Linked DNA regions of Homo sapiens. The protein of the gene in region 2 interacts with the protein of the main gene of each other region in a biochemical or structural test. Each region holds a gene or a part of one and is shown on either strand. Other genes may lie near its edges.

The links. Proteins that work in one complex are often made in the same cells at the same time.
Region 1: of the proteins of CDK1 (region 2) and GOLGA2, one has a biochemical effect on the other in vitro, tested with the Homo sapiens proteins (one study listed by BioGRID).

The regions. Positions count from the first base shown.
Region 1 is NC_000009.12:128,262,508-128,266,007, reverse strand, and holds part of GOLGA2 (golgin subfamily A member 2), read left to right. Parts: coding exon 1-38; intron 39-126; coding exon 127-220; intron 221-316; coding exon 317-423; intron 424-2,915; coding exon 2,916-2,974; intron 2,975-3,303; coding exon 3,304-3,445; intron 3,446-3,500. UniProt on the Homo sapiens protein: Peripheral membrane component of the cis-Golgi stack that acts as a membrane skeleton that maintains the structure of the Golgi apparatus, and as a vesicle thether that facilitates vesicle fusion to the Golgi membrane.
Region 2 is NC_000010.11:60,781,478-60,784,977, forward strand, and holds part of CDK1 (cyclin-dependent kinase 1), read left to right. Parts: intron 1-3,227; coding exon 3,228-3,384; intron 3,385-3,500. UniProt on the Homo sapiens protein: Plays a key role in the control of the eukaryotic cell cycle by modulating the centrosome cycle as well as mitotic onset; promotes G2-M transition via association with multiple interphase cyclins.

The DNA of each region.
Region 1 (3,500 bases), on a different chromosome or scaffold from region 2:
GCCACCAAAAGCAGGGAGCCCTAAGGGAGCAGTTACAGGTGAGTGGAGGGTGTGAAGTTCCGTCCTGTCCTCTGGAGAATGTTTCTTTCCTTCTTTTTCAGCACTTGCTTGGGTTTCCTCCCAAAGGTTCACATTCAGACCATAGGGATCCTCGTATCAGAGAAAGCTGAGTTACAGACAGCCCTGGCTCACACTCAGCATGCTGCCAGGCAGAAAGAAGGTGGGAATCTGGGCACCCCATCATCCTTCAACCTGGCACTTTGACAGGCCTTTAGGGGGAGTCCTTTGGGCCCCATCTCAACCTCTCTCATTCCAGGAGAGTCTGAAGATCTGGCCAGCCGCCTGCAGTATTCCCGGCGGCGTGTGGGAGAGTTGGAGCGGGCTCTCTCTGCTGTCTCCACGCAGCAGAAGAAGGCAGACAGGGTGAGTCCAACTGCCTGCCCCGTCCCCTGGCATACTGGCTTCCCAGATGGAGGAGTGAGCCTAAAGGTCCCTTCTGCAGGGTTGACTGTCCTGCCTAGAAGGCAGCATGGGCCATTTATCACTGCTTTTGTGTGTGGTTGCTAGAGGCATCCTGGGGCTGAGTCAGCTGCTGTGGGTGAGTTTGGGGGCACTGTGGGGAGTGAACACTGGACGCAGAGCTCGGAGGCCAAGTGCCCGCTGTGCCGTTACCTGGCTGTGGCCTTGGTCAAGTCCTAGGTGGGGGAATATGGTACTTGTACTGTGAAGGTACAGAAGAGTATCTTTAGTATGTTACCATTTGTGTAGAGAGAGGGAACGTGTGTGTGTATGTGTACCTATGTACTATGACAATATACATAAAACGTGTCTGCATGGATTCATAACAAACTCAGGAGAGAGGAACAGCACGGCTGGAAGATATTTCCCTTCTGCCCTTTCGGAGTTTTGGACTATCTGAATATATCATCCTTTCAAAAACTGAACAAAAGATAATTTCCCCCTTCCTATTTGTGCCCCCACCCTCGGGGAACAAATGAGCTTAGAGAGTCAGATATACCTGGGTGTTCAAATCCGAGCTCTGTCTAAGTGATCTTAGGCAAGCACTTAACCTCTAATATTCCGTGTTGTCCATCTACAAAATAGAGGTAATAATAGTAACTGTCTCATGTGGTGGTTATGAGGATTAAATGGGATTGTTAGCATGGTGCCTGGTGAAGCATTCAATAAAGGTTCAAACAGTGGTAGTAATAATGATAATAACAATAGCAATATTATCTGATCTCTCTGGGCCTCTGTTAGCCAGCTGTAAATTCGATCTTGGCCAGGTGTGGTGGCTCATGCCTGTAATCCCAGCACTTTGGGAGGCCGAGGCAGGTGGGTCAACTGAGGTCAGGAGTTCGAGACCAGCCTGACCAACATAGCAAAACCCTGTGTCTACTAAAAATGCAAAAAATTAGCCAGGTGTGGTGGCGTGCCCCTGTAATTGCAGCTACTTGGGAGGCTGAGGCAGGAGAATTGCTTGAACCCGGGGGCGGAAGTTGCGGTGAGCTGAGATCGTGCCACTGCCCTCCAGCCTGGGTGACAGAGGGAGACTCTGTCTGAAAATAAATAAATAAATAAATAAATAAATAAATAATAACAAAAATTAGCCAGGCATGATGGCGCATGCCTGTAATCCTAGGTACTCAGGAGCCTGAGGCAGGAGAATCACATGAACCCGGGAGGCAGAGGTTGCAGTGAGCCAAGATGGCGCCACTGCACTCCAGCCTGGGTGACAGATGGAGACTCCATCTCAAATAAATACATATATACATACATACGTACATACATAAATTCGCTCTCTCTCCCTGTTCCTTCCACCCTTACCAAGTCCTTTTTTTTTGAGACGGAGTCTCACTCTGTTGCCCAGGCTGGAGTGCAGTGGCACCATCTCGGCTCACTGCAAGCTCTGTCTCCCGGGTTCATGCCATTCTCCTGCCTCAGCCTCCCGAGTAGCTGGGACTACAGGCACCTGCCACCACGCCTGGCTAATTTTTTGTATTTTTTTTTTTTTTAGTAGAGATGGGGTTTCACCGTGTTAGCCAGGATGGTCTCGATCCCCTGATCTCGTAATCCGTCCCCCTCGGCCTCCCAAAGTGCCAGGATTACAGGCGTGAGCCACCGCACCCGGCCACCCTTACCAAGTTTTTTTAAAAACAAATGAGACCAGCCGGGTGCCGTAATCCCAACACTTTGGGAAGTTGAGGCGGGCGGATCACTTGAGGTCAGGAGTCAAGACCAGCCTGGCCAACATGTTGAAACCCCCTCTCTATTAAAAATAAAAAAATTAGGCCAGGCATGGTGGCTCACGCCTGTAATCCCAGCACTTTGGGAGGCTGAGACGGGCGGATCACAAGGTCAGGAGATCGAGACCATCCTTGCTAACACAGTGAAACCTCGTCTCTACTAAAAATACAAAAAAATTAGCCGGGTGTGGTGGCGGGGGCCTGTAGTCCCAGCTACTTAGGAGGCTGAAGCAGGAGAATGGCATGAACCCGGGAGGCGGAGCTTGCAGTGAGCCGAAATTGCGCCACTGCACTCCAGCCTGGGCAACAGAGACTCCATCTCAGAAAAAACAAAACAAAACAAATTAGCCGGACATGGTGGTGCACGCCTATAGTCCCAGCTACTCAGGAGGCTGAGGCAGGAGAGTCACTTGGACCAGGGAGGCAGAGGTTGTGAGCTGAGATCTCACCACTGCACTTCAGCCTGGGTGACAGAGGGAGACTCTGTCTCAAAAACAACAACAGCAACAACAAAATGAGACCATGGGCTTGGAAATGCCTTGAAAACATGTCAAGTGTGATTGAGAGTGAGGAAGTGTTACTGTGGAGTACTTACTGTAGCTGTTGTTACTGGTTGGCCAGCTGCTCCTCTGCCTGCTATATCCTGACTTAACCTTTCTGTATTTACAGTACAACAAGGAGTTAACCAAAGAGAGAGACGCCCTCAGGCTGGAGTTATACAAGAACACGTAGGATGGGGGATGGTGGGATGGGAGGTCTGGGGGCCCTCAGCATGGGTGGTGTGCTGGGAGGTGGGGGGTACAGGTAAGCATGATGAGGTAGTCATAGAGGTGTGCATGTGTGCCCAGCAAAGCTCTAGTGCCAGCTGTGCCACTGACTCATGGTGTAGCCTTGGGTAACTCGTATCTTTTCTCTGGCCTGTACATGTGACTTTTGATTCCTGGGGTTCCTTCCAGTGCCACAGTTCTGTGGTTGTGGGGCAAGGGTAGAGGGTGGATCACCAAAGCAGTCCTTTCTGTTCTTCGTTCATTCCTTTCTCTACTGCCTCTGGCCATAGCCAAAGCAATGAGGACCTGAAGCAAGAGAAATCAGAATTGGAAGAGAAGCTTCGGGTCCTAGTGACTGAGAAGGCTGGCATGCAGCTTAACTTGGAAGAATTGCAAAAGAAGTTAGAGATGACGGAACTCCTGCTTCAACAGGCAAGAGGCTGCAGCCCCATGGGTGGTGGGAGCGCCATCCAGCTGGGGCCATGGT
Region 2 (3,500 bases):
TAACACGAAAGATATGATTCAATTGAACAATATTATGGAAAGCATTTGTTATGAGCGCTTTAACTCAGAAAACCTTCAAATGTTTATCATTTGAACATTGTATTATTACTATGAACACTGTCTCCAAAACCATCTCTTCACCAGCTCCATCTAATGCCACTTAACTCTTAATTTGGATTTCTTTGATGTCCTCAAATGTATCCTGTGATTTGGCCTATGAGTTTTGGCAATGGCTGTTCTTTCTACCTGGAGGCCAGTTTCTACTGGCTTCATTTTTTATCTCCTCCTCTAGTCCAAGAGCATTTTGTAGTTCCCTTTGCATCATACCATAGGATCCTTGAGGGCTGGGGTTTTTGTCTTGTTCACAACTGTTTGCCCACTGCCTATCAGTAGTGCCCAACCCACAGGAGATAGCCAAATAGATAATAATAACATCTGTTTTCCTTGTTTGCTCTTCTGAACACTGTTGTTTCTTTTTCTGGCTTGTATTGTCATTTCTACTCCAATGCCTGATTGTTTTGGATTATGTGCTGGATATTGTTTTGGAAAAAGGAACTTGTGGAAATAAATGGAGGCCTAAATGATTCACACAGAATTTTCTTTTGGTTCTGCCAGGTATCTGGTTAAAGTCTAGTATTAAAATACTACTTTAAAAGTTATATTTTTTCCCCTCAACTTTTCATTTTGAACATCTCCAAATCTATATTGAAAGATTTATGCAATGAACTTGTAATATTTTTACCAAGATGTTGGTGTTTTGTCATGTTTACTTTATTATCTGTATGTATGTTAGCATTATTTTTTATTTTTTTCATTGACATTAATTCTGATTTAGAACAGTCTCTGCCTTTTCTCTCACTTGACAGTGAGTCTTGACAACCTAATTCATTTCTTAAATACCTCCAGACTTTACTATTTTAAATATTACAAAAATTGTTCTCTGGTTTCTTCTGAATTACAGAAATCTGAGTGTTGTGATACTAATCTTTGAAATCCTTCCTGTCTTAAGAAAATGTCTTTTTGGATCATAGAGTAGCAGTATCCATGATGGTGGAACCTTGCCTGGCATTTAGTAGGCATTTGATAAATACTTGCTTAATGAAGGTTTTCTGCTTAAGGGCCTCCATAACTTGATCATATCCTACATATTTTTCTTTTGTTTCTTTTTGTTTCCTGGGATAAATCTTCCATTAGACTTAGACTGATCTCCTTCTAGGCTTACCTGTGTTAATGATTTTTGCCTCCTTAGTTATTTATACTTAGTTAAATACCCTAGAGTATTTCTGTCTTTAGAATTCTTAGTTCATTTTGGAGGATATGCCATGTATTTCAAAAATAATTTTGGATGATTAACCAATAGAAAGTTCTGCTTTGTTTAACCCCTCTTCCAGTAGTTCAGTGAGAAGTGATATTATCTCTAAAATTCAACACATTGAGTGTTGGCCACTGGTTAATTGTTAATTCTGAAAATTATTTAGGATTAGATGAGATTGTACACTTGAGGGAGAAGAAAGGATGCTAGAAAAAAAATTAGTTCTGAACTTACCATTAACTGTTTATGTGACTGTATTATGCAAGTGACTAATTTTCCTGAGATCACTTAAACAGTATGCCAGATGATTGTGCTACTGGTTTACCTACTTTTTGTGTTTAATGAGAGCTGAATTTACATCCAAAAAAATGTAGATTTTAAGTATATGAAGGTTGCCTACTTTTAAGGATGGCTGTGAGGATTAAATATAGTCAATTCTCCTTTAATGTAGAGTAATTTTGGTTATCAAAAAGTTATACATTAATCCACAATTTAATCAAAATAGTATAAAATGACTCATGTCAGTTTATAGTTTTAAAATGACACCAGTATTTAAGAAAACATAGACTTTTGTATAGAGGTTCTGTCAAAAAAATTAAGCTTAAGTAGCATCAATTTGCTACTGCTCAAACTGCTTAATTTTTTAACCAAGCAGTTGGTAATTTGTTGGTTGTTAGCCTTTTTTAAAATATTGCTACTTTCAGAGAAACTCATAAAAGCTATAGAAGAGGCCTTCTTCCTAGAACAGTGCACTCTAATCACTTTTGAAGTTAAACCAATGCCATGGAAAGCAAGCTATTCAACAAAATTTTGTGTGTACTTAAGGGGTTCAGGACCTCCCTAAACTCCAACTCGAGTTTAAAAAGACTTATCTAGGGAATTCAGCCACGTATATGACAGATTTTAGCTAGTCTTCTCCCTTATTGCCATTTCATTCCCTGTATCCACCTCCTCCCTCCCTGCTATCCCTTATAATTGATATTGTTGCTCATTACCTGAAGCCCATATATCAAAATCAGTATTTTCATCAACTTGCAAATGGGTGTGAGGCTTTCCTAATATGTAGTACATACAATGTGCTTTATTAGGTTTAATACACAAACACCTGGTCTTTTTTCTCCATTCTTTTGAGAATGAGGACTGTTGACTGTATTTTGAGATACAGATAAAAGTGTTTTGAAAAGCATAAAGCACTCTACAGTATTTTCTGAAAGTGTCATAATGACTTTTATCAGTAATATTTCCTGAGCCCAAATTTTTACACTATATTTTATGCCCACTTCGTTGCAGGGTAGGATATTGACAGAAGGTTAATTTTAATTTGCAAATGATCTATTTTGTTCTGTAAAATATGCTGGAACATTAATGGTAATTTAGATGTATAGAAAACTTGTGATGACTACATGAATTTTATTTTTAAGCCATACAGATTGTAGTTACTCTCAATTTCTTTTTGGAAGCAATGAGGGTATGAGTAAGATACTTCCCATATGGCCACACCAGACATTTCTATCATGTGACCCTTATGGGATTCAATGATCTTGAAATCCTTTAGTTTGACCAGGTGCGGTGGCTCACGCCTGTAATCTCAGCATTTTGGGGCGGCGAGGCAGGTAGATTGCTTGAGCTCACGAGTTCCAGACTGGCCTGGGCAACATGGTGAAACCCCATCTCTACCAAAAAGACAAAAATTAGCCGAGTGTGGTGGCATGTGCCTGTAGTCCCAGCTACTTGGGAGGCTGCCGTGGGAGGATCCCCTGAGCCCAGGAGGAGGAGGTTGTAGTGAGCCTTGATTGACCCACTGCACTCCAACCTGGACAAGAAAACAAGACCCTGCCATAAGGAAAAAAAAAAAGAAAAAAAGATCTTTAGTTTGTGGGGTGTGTCACACAGCATATTATTTACTTTGTTTCAGGTACCTATGGAGTTGTGTATAAGGGTAGACACAAAACTACAGGTCAAGTGGTAGCCATGAAAAAAATCAGACTAGAAAGTGAAGAGGAAGGGGTTCCTAGTACTGCAATTCGGGAAATTTCTCTATTAAAGGAACTTCGTCATCCAAATATAGTCAGGTATGTTGTAATATCTGAATGTAAGCCATTTTCTGCATGCTATTTCAAATATAAATTTCAACTTGGAAATCTTTACATTTGCTCAATTTCTTGGTCTAGCCTTACTGAGTGGACTA